Regions from separate parts of the Homo sapiens genome. Here regions 1 and 3 are each linked to region 2. The links come from fine-mapping of genetic effects on gene expression. A gene starts in region 2. Each other region holds a variant in brackets. All regions are shown on one strand. Distances are between the middles of the regions. Region 1 overlaps ZNF26 (zinc finger protein 26). Region 2 holds the start of ZNF140 (zinc finger protein 140). Region 3 overlaps LOC124903064 (a long non-coding RNA gene).

Region 1 (4,241 bases), 53 kb before region 2:
AGCCTCCTCCTACTGGGTTCAAGCAGTTCTCTGCCTCAGCCTCCCAAGTAGCTGGGATTACAGGTGCTCGCCACCATACTTGGCTAATTTTTGTATTTTTAGTAGAGATGGGGTTTCACCATCTTGGGCAGGCTGGTCTTGAACTCCTGACCTCATGATCCACCTGCCTCGGCCTCCCAAAGTGCTGGGATTACAGGCGTAAGCCACTGCGCCTGGCCAATAAGTCTCTTTTTTTAGGTAATCAAGTTAAAATAATAAGTCACTAAATTTTGAGGTGTTCTGTTATGTAGAAGAGTGACTGGACCAACCCATAAAAAGGACAACTTCATATAGTTCAACTTTTTTTTTTTTTTTTTTTTTTTTTGATACAGAGTCTCGTTCTGTCACCCAGGCTGGAGTGCAGTGGCATAATTTCAGCTCATGGCAACCTCCGCCTCCAAGGTTCAAGTGATTATCATGCCTCAGCCTCCCAAGTAGCTGAGATTACGGGCACCTGCCACCACGCCTGGATAATGTTTGTATTTTTAGTAGAGGTGGGGTTTCACCATGTTGACTAGGCTGGTCTCGAACTCCTGACCTCAGGTGATCTGCCCGCCTTGGCCTCCCAAAGTGCTGGGATTACAGGCATGAGCCATTGCATCTGGCCTAGTTCAACTTTATAAATAAATATGTCAAAGATAATTCAATATTAAAGTTTATATATTTATCATTTTAACCAAATAATGTAGAAATAGAGTGATATGAAACATAAATACCTATATAGGTTAAGAAAAATATTCAATAAATTGGAACAATTCTTTGTTATAAAATTCTTAAGAAACTCAGAATAAAATGCAACACCTTTTTACGATTATAAACCCCTCAGCAAACATACTTCAAGCAGAACCTTACGAACAGTATAATTAAAATGAGGAACCGCTGAGATCACTGCTCTCTCATTATTTCTCCCGGCGTTGAGCTGGAGTCCTAACCAATGTGGTAAGACAAGGAATGAAGATTAAGAGGTATATGGGCTGGAAAGAAAGAGGAATGTTTGTGGTTATTTGCAAGCAAGATCTTGTGATGATTAATGTTAGGTGTCAGCTTGACTGGATTAAAGGATACCCAGATAGCTGGCGAAGTATTATTTCTGGCTATGCCTGTGGGGGTTTTTCCAGACGAGACTGGCATTTGAATCAGGTAAGGAAGATTCACCCTCACCCAATGTGAGTGGGCACTGTCCAATCTGTTGAGGGCCCAGACAGAAGAAAAAGGCTGACGAGAGGTGAATTCTCTCTCTCCTGGAGCTGAGACATCATCTTCTTCTGCCCTTCAACATCAGAACCTAAGGTTCCTGGGCTTTCAGCCTCCAACTGGGAGTTATGCCACAGGCTTCCCTGGTTTTGAGGCCTTGGTACTTGGACTGAGCCACTCTTCCAGCTTCCCACCCGGAGTGGGAACCTATGGTTCCTTTTCCTGGCCGTCCATGGCCGCCCATGAACCAATCGGCAAGCACTTCCTCCTCTCTCAGACCCGTACAAACCACAGGCTCAGCCAGAGGTGATCAGATGGGGGACCATCTGCCTGCAGAGAGGAGCCAGTCACTCTAGGGCCTCCTCTCTGCTGAGAGCTGAGCCCTCGTCAGGACAACCAGCTGCAGAGAGGAGGTACCCTCTGTGCAAGGAGCTAAACACTGGGGGACACGCTAGCTGCAGATAGGAGCTGCCCCCTGCGGTCTCCTCTGAGCTATTCTATCACTCAATAAAGCTCCCCTTCGTCTTGCTCACCCTCACTTGTCTGCCTACCTACTTCTTTCTGGTCGCAGGACAAGAACTCAGGACCCGCTGAATGGCAAGGCTGAAAGAGCTGTAACACACACAGCTGAAACATGCCCCTTGCTTGCCACATTGTGGGTGAAGAGAAAAAGAGAAGAGCTTCAGCCCTTCGAGGAGCCCAGACCTGGGAGATCTTTGAGCCAGGGCTGTGACTTCCTCTTTGGGGACCTGTGGTGTTTGGGGTCTCCAAGCCTTTGGGCAACACCGCATTCTCCAGTGCCAGCCATGGAAGCTGCTTGTGGTGTCCCTAGTCCAGCCGCAGCCTCACAGAGAGCTGGCACCCCTGCTGGCACCTGGAGCTGCCTGCCCCACAGCAGCAGCCAGTGTGTCGGTGCAGTGGCTGAATCCCATGCTTGCTCACACACCCCTTGCTGCTCCACACCTGACTCTCAGTCTCCCTTAGAGGTGTGGGATCTGGGCTGGTAGTGTGAGCTGAGAACAGCATGCTAGGCCAAGGGGGCAGAATGAGCCCAGCGAGCCTGAGCAAAACTCGAGCAAAGGTGCCACTGGCCACAGAGGTTCCTGACAAGAAAAGTGACACCTCAAAGATCCCATAAC[A/AT]TTTTTTTTTTAAGAGTTTCGCTCTTGTCGCCCAGGCTGGAGTGCAATGGCGCAGTTGGCTCACTGCAACCTCTGCCTCCCGGGTTCAAGCAATTCTTCTGCCGCAGCCTCCTGAGTAGCTGGGATTACAGGCATCCACCACCACGCCTGGCTAATTTTTGTATTTTTAGTAGAGACGGGGTTTCACCATGTTGGCCAGGCTGGTCTCGAACTCCTGACCTCAGGTGATCCGCCTGCCTCGGCCTCCCAAAGTGCTGGGATTACAGGCGTGAGCCAACACTCCTGGCTTCTCATGACCTTATTTAGCCTTAATTATTTTATTAAACATTCCACTTCCCAGTACAGCAACACTGGGGGTTAGGGCTTCAATATATGACTTAAGCGGCACATTCAGTCCATGATTCCACCAACTTCCAATAAGAAAACATACTATAGGCAGGGTGTGGCGGCTCACACCTGTAATTCCAGCATTTTGGGAGGCCGAGGTGGGTGGATCACCTGAGGTCAGGAGTTCAAGACAAGCCTGGCCAACATGGTGAGACCCCATCTCTACAAAAGTACCAAAAAAATTAGCTAGGCTTGGTGGCGAGCGCCTGTAATCCCAGCTGCTTGGGAGGTTGAGATGGAAGAATCACTTGAATCCTGGAGGTGGAGGTTGCATTGAGCCAAGATCATGCCATTGCACTGCAGCCTGGGTGACAGAGTAAGACTCCATCTCAAAAACAACCAACAACAATAACAAAAAATACTATAAAAAACCCTCATATTCATTATAGCAATAGAAATAAGCTACTTAGAAATATATCTTATAAAATGTTAAATTTAAAATGAGAACTGTCTGGGAATAAATCTTCCAAAAACCACATATAAACTGAAAAATTATGAATACAATAATGTTTTAAAGTTTGTAAAAGAAAAACTAAAAAATGGGCCGGGCATGGTGGCTCACGCCTGTAATCCCAGCACTTTGGGAGGCCGAAGCAGGTAGATCACGAGGTCATGAGATCGAGACCATCCTGGCTAACATTGGGAGGCTGAAGCAGGTGGATCACGAGGTCATGAGATCGAGACCATCCTGGCTAACATGGTGAAACCCCATCTCTACTAAAAATACAAAAAATTAGCTGGCAGTGGTGGCGGGCGCCTATAGTCCCAGCTACTTGGGAGGCTGAGGCAGGAGAATGGCGTGAACCCGGGAGGCAGAGCTTGCAGTGAGCCGAGATTGCGCCACTGTACTCCAGCGTGGGTGACAGAGCGAGACTCCATCTCAAAAAAAAAAAGAAAAAAGAAAAAATGGAAAGATATATTTGTTACTGAGCAATAGGCTTACTTTACAACATGCACAGAAGCCAACATTATGGTTCCCTCTTTTGAGGAAGAAAAAAAAAAAGCTTTATACCAAGTCAACTGGCAAGGAGACAAGAGGCAATGCTCAGATCTGTCTCTGTGATTGGGGTGGGTCAAGATTTTATGGCATTTCCAGCTAGACCCAGATGATGCCAATGCAGGCCTGTCAGGCTGGTGATGATAACAATTAGAAATTAAAGCTTTTTGCATTGCATGTGCCAAGGCAATTTTGGCTGTGTGTGTACCTGCAACAACTTAAGAAATGGTTAATTTGTTTGAGCTGGTCCCACAGTTACAGGTACCCCCCTTTTTGTGCACTCCTCAATCTTGAGGGAAGTGGGGTGATGACCATTCTAGCTACTTCATGCTTTCAAGTCACGCAGGTCTGAGTACAAAGAATGCATGAGTGGGGCTACTGACATACAAGATAGCTCTGCTCCATCTGTACCTTGACAAGAAGGAAAAGGAATCCCAACATACATACAATTATAGTTCTTAACTTAATTAGACCCTCAAAAATAG
Region 2 (4,241 bases):
CCAGGCTGGAGTGCAGTAGCGCCAACTTGGCTCACTGCAAGCTCCACCTCCCAGGTTCAAGTGATTCTCCTGCCTCAGCTTCCCAAGTAGCTGGGAATACAGGCACCCACCACCATGCCCAGGTAATTTTTGTATTTTTAGTAGAGACGAGGTTACACTCTGGCCTGTTGGCCAGGCTGATTGCAAACTCCTGACCTCAGGTGATCTGCCCGCCTTAGCCTCCCAAAGTGCTGGGATTACAGGCATGAGCCACAGCACCCGGCAACTCCATCTTAAATAAGAACTGGGTAAAATAAGGCTGAGGCATACTGGGCTGCGTTCCAAGACCGTTAGGCATTCTAACTCACAGTATGAGACAGCAGGTCAGCATGAGACACAGGTCATAAAGACCTTGCTGATAAAAGTTTACAGTAAAGAAGCCGGCTAAAACCCACCAAAACCAAGATGGCAATGAGAGTGACTTCTGGCTGTCCTCATTGCTACGTCTTCCACTGTCAGAGGCGGTTGAACCAGGGCAACTCTATCTTGAGTAGGGGCTGGTTAAAATAAGGCTGAGACCTGCTGGGCAGCATTCCCTGGAGGTTAAGGCATTCGTAGTCACAGGATGAGACATGAGGCTGGCACAAGATACAGGTCATAAAGACCTTGCTGATAAAACAGGTTGCAGTAAAGAAGCCGACTAAAACCGAGATAGCGATGAGAACGACCTGATTGTCCTCACTGCCCACCAGTGGCTATGGCAACGTCAGGAAGTTACCCTATATGGTCTAAAAAGAGGATGCATGAATAATCCACCCCTTGTTTAGCATATCATCAAGAAATAACCACAAAAATGCGCAACCAGCAGCCCTCGGGGCTGCCCTGCCTATGGATTAGCCATTCTTTATTCCTTTACTTTCCTAATAAACTTGCTTTCACCTTATGGATTCGCCTCAAATTCTTTCTTGTGCAAGATCCAAGAACCCTCTCTTAGAGTCTGAGATCCGGACCCCTTTCCAGTAGCAAAAGGTCTTAGACTGAAGTACTGACTCCACAGTCGTTGTTAAGAATCCTAGTTGTTTAATAGAGGCGGTCTTGGGCTCTTGCTGGGCCGCGGTGTGTTCTGGGAAGTGTAGTCACCTGAGTCTCCAGTTCCTTGTCTCTGGGCCGTGTGTGCACGCCAGCGAAGCACTGTGGGAGTCGTAGTAGGGGAGGAAAACCCTATACCCTCTGGCGTGCGGCGCAGGAGTTTGGGGGAATGTAGTCGCCAGAGCTCTGCGTTGTCTTCCGGCTTTGGGCGTGGCCACGATGCACTCTGGGAGTCGTAGTAGGGGAAGAACGTCCTCCGCTCTTTTGCGCACGGTCGCTAGAGGTTCTGGGAAGTGTAGTTGCCTGAAGCTCGTGTTCTTTGTCTTTCGATGATGTGCGCTTGGCCTCAAAGCACCCTGGGAGTTGCAGTGGGGCGGGGAAAGCCATATGCTCTCTCGCGCGGGGTCGCGGTTGTTTCTGGGAAGTGTGGTGGCCTGAGTTCCACGTTCTTCGTTTCTCCGCTAGTTGTGCGCTTGGCCGCGAGACACTCTGGCAGTTATAGGAACACAAAGGTCTGTGTACTCTTCCGCGGGGGGCCGCGGTTATTTCTGGGAAATGTAGTTGCCTAGGACCCGGGTTCTTTGTTTCTCGGCTCTGGGCGTGGGAGGATAGCCCCTATGCTCTGGCGCACCGGGCCGCGATGGCTCTGGGAATTGTAGTTGTCGCAGGCCCTCGTTCTTTGTCTCCTGGCGTTCTGGGCACGGCAGCGAGGCGCTCTGGGAGTTCCAGTAGGAACGAAAAGCCCTTGCGCGCAGGGCCGCATTGGTTTCTGGGAATTGTAGTTTCTTGAGGCCGGCGGCCTGGTTGGGGTGACGTCGGCGAGGCTTCTGAAGACGCAATTCCTGCGACGCCCGCGGAGGGGCCCTGGGGGGCGGCGCCGAGCGTCTGGCCTGTGTTGGCTGTAGGCAACGAAAGGAGCCCTCCCGGTCTGCGCCGGATGGCCCCGGGCGGTGACTCGGTCCGGAGCCCTGGAACGCTACGCCCACCTGGCGGAAAGCACCACGGAAACGCATCCTTCTGTGGCCACTGTTAGGTGAGGGGGTTCTGGGGAGGCGCGCCGTGGCAGGAAGAGAAAGCCGGCGCCAGTGGTCCAAGCGCGATCTCTCAGGGCGCCCTGCTCTCTACGTGGGAGGCGCGGAGCGGGGGCCACGGGAATCCCCAGTGCGGGAATCTAGTGACTTGGGCGCGGCCTAGCTGGCCTGTTCGCTCAGGGCTCCTTTCTCTCTCTGCCAGGTCTGCCATTTTACACTTTTCTGATCTCCTCCTTCCCTTCTGTGAGCTATGTCTCAGGTAAGCTAATGATTGATAAATATATATATATATATATATATAAATTTTTATTTTTTTTTTAAGAGAGAGACAGGGTCTCCTCCTGTCGCCCAGGCAGTGGAGCGATCATAGCATCCTGTAACCTCAAACTCTTGGCCTCAAGTGAGCCAACCCACTTGGCCTGTTTCCGCTTTTCTTTGTGAAGTGCAGCCGTGTTTTTCAGGACTTGGGACGTGGCTTTCTTTCTCCTACAACCACCTGCCTGGCAGAACCCCAGGACCCTGTCCCTTGTTCCTCCTTTTCAGGTGCTTATACTTAAGTATACATGAAGAGAGTGACAGGAAGCTATCCAGATGTGGGCGGGGTTTCTGACCTGGCTGGCATGTTTTAGGGTGAGAGGGTAGGGTGCCAGCTGTTACATCGCCTCCTCTTTCCCACAGTGTTAGAATGAGGAGTGCTTTACGTTACTCCAGCGCCCCTTTATTCATTTATTCAATATGTTTTTACTGAACCTCTACTTTCAGTGGTTCCCACAGTGTGATCCTTGGACCAGCAGTATCAGCATCATCTGAGAACGTATTAGAAATGAATATTCTTGAGTCCTACCCCAGACCTTCTGAATCAGAAACTGAGAATTTGGCCCAGCAGTCTAACAGTCCTTCCAAGTGATTCTAATGTGCAACTCATTCTAAGTCTTGAGGATGCAGAAGTGACCAAAACAAAATCTCCGAATCCTCAGAGCTCATTTTTCAGACATGACATAAGGAACACATTTTTATTTTGATTTGGCCTAAGGGCTTGGCTGGTAATTGTGCTTCACAGCAGTGGGGATAACAGGGTCAACTATTCAAAATGAGTCCCTCATTTCAGTTCCACTTCTTTATCCTACTTTTTGTCATACTTCTCTCCAAATTCAGAGGTTCTCTGAGTTTTGCTGGGGAATCCAATTTCCACCTCTGCTGCAGATCTTGCTGTGTAGGAAACAGCTGCTTTATTAGTCAACAGTCTTTAATCACTTTTTTATTAAACTTCAAAACTGTAAATTATAACTGCCATCCATCTGGGACTGCTACTAGTTTGAGACATTTTAAATTCCCATTCATGCCTTATAGATCAATGTGGATCACTCAAGTGGTGCAAAACCAGGCTGCAAAGCAAGGGCTTATATATTATTCCCCCTAACTCTGAGGGAAAGTGCTTTAGGTTCTGTCCTGGGAGGTATTACATTCTCTTCTTGCGGAATCAAGATTCTTTATTGCTTATCCTCCTTGTTCTGTGACATTGCTAAAATTACCACTAAGTTTCACAGGTATTTCTTTAGGATTAGGGATAACTGTGACAAACTTGAGACTGTATGCCCCATTTGAAGGGTGGTGCTGTTATCTGCTGTAGCGAATTATTACCCTGAAGAAATTCTGGCTGAATTATATTAAAATAGGCTGGTATTAAGGAAAATATACATTGTTTATTAACATAAAGGAATACTGTAAAATCTTAAGAATTTTTACAACCAATGCCAAAAATCCATATTGTTCATGTGTATAATCCTTTATTTTGAATAAAATTGTAAATTATCTCAGGACAGATAATTTATGTTTTTCTCCTTTTCTCCAGTTATACAACAAAACACAAGAGCTAGGCTCTTCATTATATAATTACTCAGAATTCTGAAAACTCTCACTGTTACTACTTAGACACATTGCCTAACCTCCACAGTGAGACTCATTTTATTCCTTGATGAGGGAGTTTGGGGGCATGCGTGCTGGTCATGCAAATATCTGTCCGTCATTTCAGGGGTCAGTGACATTCAGAGATGTGGCCATAGACTTCTCCCAGGAGGAGTGGAAATGGCTTCAGCCTGCTCAAAGAGATTTGTACAGATGTGTAATGTTGGAGAACTATGG
Region 3 (4,241 bases), 100 kb before region 2:
AGCGGACCATGGTCTAGCGGTAGCGTCAGTGCTTAGAAAAGGCACCGGTTACTTAGCAGACCGGGAAAGGGAATCTCCCTTTCTCCGGGGGAGGTAGAGAAGACTCTGCTCCACCACCTCTTGTGGAGGTCCTGACATCAGTCAAGCCCGCCCGCAGTCATCCGGAGGCCTGACCGTCTCCCTGTGATGCTGTGCTTCTGCGGTCACGCTCCTGGTCCACTTTCATGTTCCACCCTGTACACCTGGATCTGCCTTCTAGATAGCAGTAGCAGAATTAGTGAAAGTACTAAAAGTCTTTGAAATGCAGAAGTAATGGCGTAAGCTGTCTCTTTCTCCGCCTCGGCTGCCAAACAGGGAAAGGTGCCCTGTCCAGTGGACACGTGACCCACATGACCTTAGCTATCATTGGAGATGGCTCACGCTCCTTACCCTGCCCCCTTGTCTTGTATCCAATAAATAACAGCACAGCCAGGCATTCGGGGCCACTACCGGTCTCCGCGTCTTGGCGGTAGTGGCCCCCCGGGCCCTGCTGTCTTTTCTTCTATCTCTTTGTCTTGTGTCTTTATTTCTATGATCTCTCGTCTCCGCACATGGGGAGAAAATCCCACAGACCCTGTAGGGCTAGACCCTACAGGCATGGTGGCACATGCCTATAGTCTCAGCTACTTGGGAGGCTGACTTGGGAGAACCCAGGAGTTTGAGGCTGCGGTGAGCCATGTTTGTGCTACTGCACTCCAGCCTGGGTGACAGAGTGAGACACTGTCTCAAAAGAAAAAAAAATTTGAGTAGACCATAAAATAATCATTAGACCAAACGATAGCATTATTGTAACTCTGGTTTATAACTCCACATTTTCTTTTTTTTTAAACATAATTTAAGAGATTAATGCATTTAAAAGAAGGATTAATGTATGTTTTGGGGCATGCAATGTATAAGGATGTAATTTTGTGACATCAGCAAATCAAAGGGGTGGGAGCAGAGCTTTAAAGGAGCAGAGTTCTCACCTGTTATTAAAGTTAAACTGGTAAAAATTCAAATTAGAGCGTTATCGTTTCCGATGTTAAATGTACTCCTCATGGCAACCACAAAAAATAGCTATAGAACAGACACAAAAGAACATCAGAAAGGAATTTAAACATTCCACTATAAAAAATCAACTAGGTCGGGCGCAGTGGCTCACCCCTGTAATCCCAGCACTTTGGGAGACCAAGGTGGGTGGATCACCTGAGGTCAGGAGTTTGAGACCAGCCTGGCTAACATGGTGAAACCCTGTTTCTACTAACAATACAAAAAATTAGCCGGGCATGGTGGTGTGCGCCTGTAATCCCAGCTACTCAGGAGGCTGAGGCAGGAGAGTTGCTTGAACCCGGGAGGCAGAGGTTGCAGTGAGTCGAGATTGTGCCATTGCATTCCAGCTTGAGCAACAAGAGCAAAACTCCCTCTCAAAAAAAATAGATAAATAAACACAAAAGAAGACAGCAATGCAGGAAATTAGAGATAAAAACGCTTATAAGCCACTTCAAAAACAAAGCAAAATGACAGAAATAATATCTTCCGGCCAGGCACGGTGGCTCACACCTGTAATCCCAGCATTTTGGGAGGCTGAGAC[A/T]GGTGGATCACCTGAGGTCAGGAGTTCGAGACCAGCCTGACCAATATGGTGAAACCCTCGTCTCTGTTAAAAATGCAAACATTAGCTGGGCGTGGTGGCACGCATCTGTAGTCCCAGCTACTCGGGAGGCTGAGGCAGTAGAATCACTTGAACCCGGGAGGCGGAGGTTGCAGTGAGCTGAGATTGCGCCACTGCACTCCAGCCTGGGTGACAGAGCGAAACTCCATCTCAAAAAAAAAACTTCCTCATTAGTAGTTAATTTACATGTAAATGATAAACTTTTCAATCAAAAGACTTACATTTGAAGATTGAATAAAAATACATAATTCCACTATATGCTGTTATAAGAGACTGACTTTACATCCAAAAACACAAATAGTAGAAAGTGAAAGGATTGAAAAAGATATTCCATGTAAATATCCCAAAGAAAGCAGTGATGGTTGCATCAGACAAAATAGCCTTTAAACCAAAACAGATCACAAGACAAAGAATAACCTTGTAGATTAATAAAATATTCAACATAGGACATTATAATACTTATATATCTAATAACAGACCATAAAAATATATAAAGCAAAAACTGACAGAATTCATGAGAGCAATATTCTAGAGTAATAATTGAAGACTTCAATACCTCACTCTGTTTATGACTTAAGATATTTGCATCACTGTTGACAAGTGAAATCAATTTTTGTTTTCATTTTCTGTGATACTTTTTTAGGTTAACATAGTATTGTTATAATTGCTCCAGAAATTCGGAAGTTTTTTTGTTTGTTTGTTTGTTCTTTTTTGAAACGGAGTCTCATTCTGTTGCCAGGCTGGAGTGCAGTGGCGCGATCTCGGCTCACTGCAACTTCCGACTCCTGGGTTCAAGTGATTCTCCTGCCTCAGCCTCCTGAGTAGCTGGGATTACAGGTGCCCACCACCACGCCCGGCTAATTTTTGTATTTTTAGTAGAGACGGGGTTTCACCATGTTAGCCAGGATGGTCTTGATCTCCTGACGTCGTGATCCGTCTGCCTCGGCCTCTGAAAGTACTGGGATTACAGGTGTGAGCCATCACGCCCGGCCAGAAGTATTATTTATTCTGGAATAATTTATGAGCATTGGGATTATCTGGTCTTTGAAGTTTGGCAGCATTTTCCTATGAAACCATCAAAATCTGTTACTTTTTTGTGGGGTGGTTCTTCACAAGTTTATTTGATGAAAAGTAGGCTGTTGAGTCTTCTGAGGTAAATCTTGGAAAATTCAATTTTCCTAAGAATTTAATCATTTCATCTAGGTCTTCAAAATGTTTTTGCCTAGAGTTGGGCAAAAACGTCTTTTATGATTTAAAAAACATCTATCTTTTGTTTCAGTAGTTATTTCCTCTTTGTATGTCTTATTTTGTATATTTGTACTTTTTCTCTTTTTGCTGGATTAGAACACCGAGTTTTCTATTTTGTTAACGTTCTTCAAAAACAAATGTTTTTATTTATTAGTTCTGCTGTTGTTCTGCTTTCGACCTCATTTATTTCTGCTTTTATCTCTCTCATTTCCAATAGTCAAACTCAGTGGCCTTAATTAAGTTTTATTGAAATACAATTCACATGCCACAAAATGTGTCGATTGTAAGTATTCAATTCAGTGATACTAGTAAATTCATAGAGTTTTACTACCATGACCACAATGCAGCCTTAGAACATCTTCATTACCAAAGTTCTTTATGCCCATTTACATTTAACCCCTGTTCCTACTCCTATCCTTAGGCAACTACTGATGTGATTTTTCACTCTACAAATTTGCATTTTCTAGACATTTTATATCCACAAAATCATACATGCGATGACTTTTCTGTCTAGCTTCTTGACATCAGCATCATGTTTTTGAGGTTTATTCACATCGCATGTATCAGCACTTCCCCCCTCTTCTAATTGCTGAACAGTATTCCATCGTTATGGCTATACCACGTTTGTTTATCCAGGCATCATTTGATGGACATTTGAGTTGCTTTCACTTTTCTTTATCCAGTCAGCAGTTGATAGACATTTTGGGTTGTTTCCAGTTTCTGGCTATTATAAATAATATTGCTGGTCGGGTGCGGTGGCTCACGCCTGTAATCCCAGCACTTTGGGAGGCCGAGGTGGGCGGATCACGAGATCAGGAGATCGAGACCATCCTGGCTAACACGGTGAAACCCCGTCTCTACTAAAAATACAAAAAATTAGCTAGGCATGGTGGCGGGCACCTGTAGTCCCAGCTACTCAGGAGGCTGAGGCAGGAGAATGGCGTGAACCCGGGAGGCGGAGCTTGCAGTGAGCCGAGATCGTGCCACTGCACTCCAGCCTGGGCCAGAGTGAGACTCCGTCTCAAAATAATAATAATAATAATAATAATAATAATAATATTGCTATAAACATTATCATAAACGACTTTATACAGACATAAGTTTTCATTTTCTCTTAGCTATCTAGAAGTAGCATTGCAGAGTCATGCGGTAAGTTTATGGTTAACTTTTTAAGTAATGGTCAAACTGTTCTCCAAAGTGACTGCTATTTTTACATCTCACTAGCAAAGCATGAAGGCTCGTTTCTCCACATACTTGCCTACACTAGGTATTGTCTGTTTTTCTTATTATAGCCATTCTATTGAAT

What was found. PIP is the estimated chance that this variant, and not a neighbour inherited with it, causes the effect.
Region 1: its variant is the best candidate, but not a certain one, in a credible set for the expression of ZNF140 in whole blood (INTERVAL, PIP 0.55).
Region 3: its variant is the best candidate, but not a certain one, in a credible set for the expression of ZNF140 in whole blood (INTERVAL, PIP 0.80).

The regions. Positions count from the first base shown.
Region 1 is chr12:133,026,181-133,030,421 of GRCh38, forward strand. It overlaps ZNF26 (zinc finger protein 26), which reads left to right. Exons shown (of 4, transcript NM_019591.4): 4 at 1-922. Among named protein-coding and RNA genes, the nearest start is that of ZNF84-DT, 8.9 kb to the right of the region's middle. The variant A/AT (reference allele first, on the strand shown) is at 2,373.
Region 2 is chr12:133,078,972-133,083,212 of GRCh38, forward strand. It overlaps ZNF140 (zinc finger protein 140), which reads left to right and starts at 1,952. Exons shown (of 5, transcript NM_003440.4): 1 at 1,952-2,101; 2 at 2,302-2,358; 3 at 4,132-4,241. The coding sequence starts at 2,350. RefSeq lists enhancers at 981-1,670, 1,741-1,940.
Region 3 is chr12:132,977,127-132,981,367 of GRCh38, forward strand. All of the region lies in intron 1 of LOC124903064 (a long non-coding RNA gene), which reads left to right. Among named protein-coding and RNA genes, the nearest start is that of ZNF26, 7.1 kb to the right of the region's middle. RefSeq lists a silencer at 1-45. The variant A/T (reference allele first, on the strand shown) is at 1,610.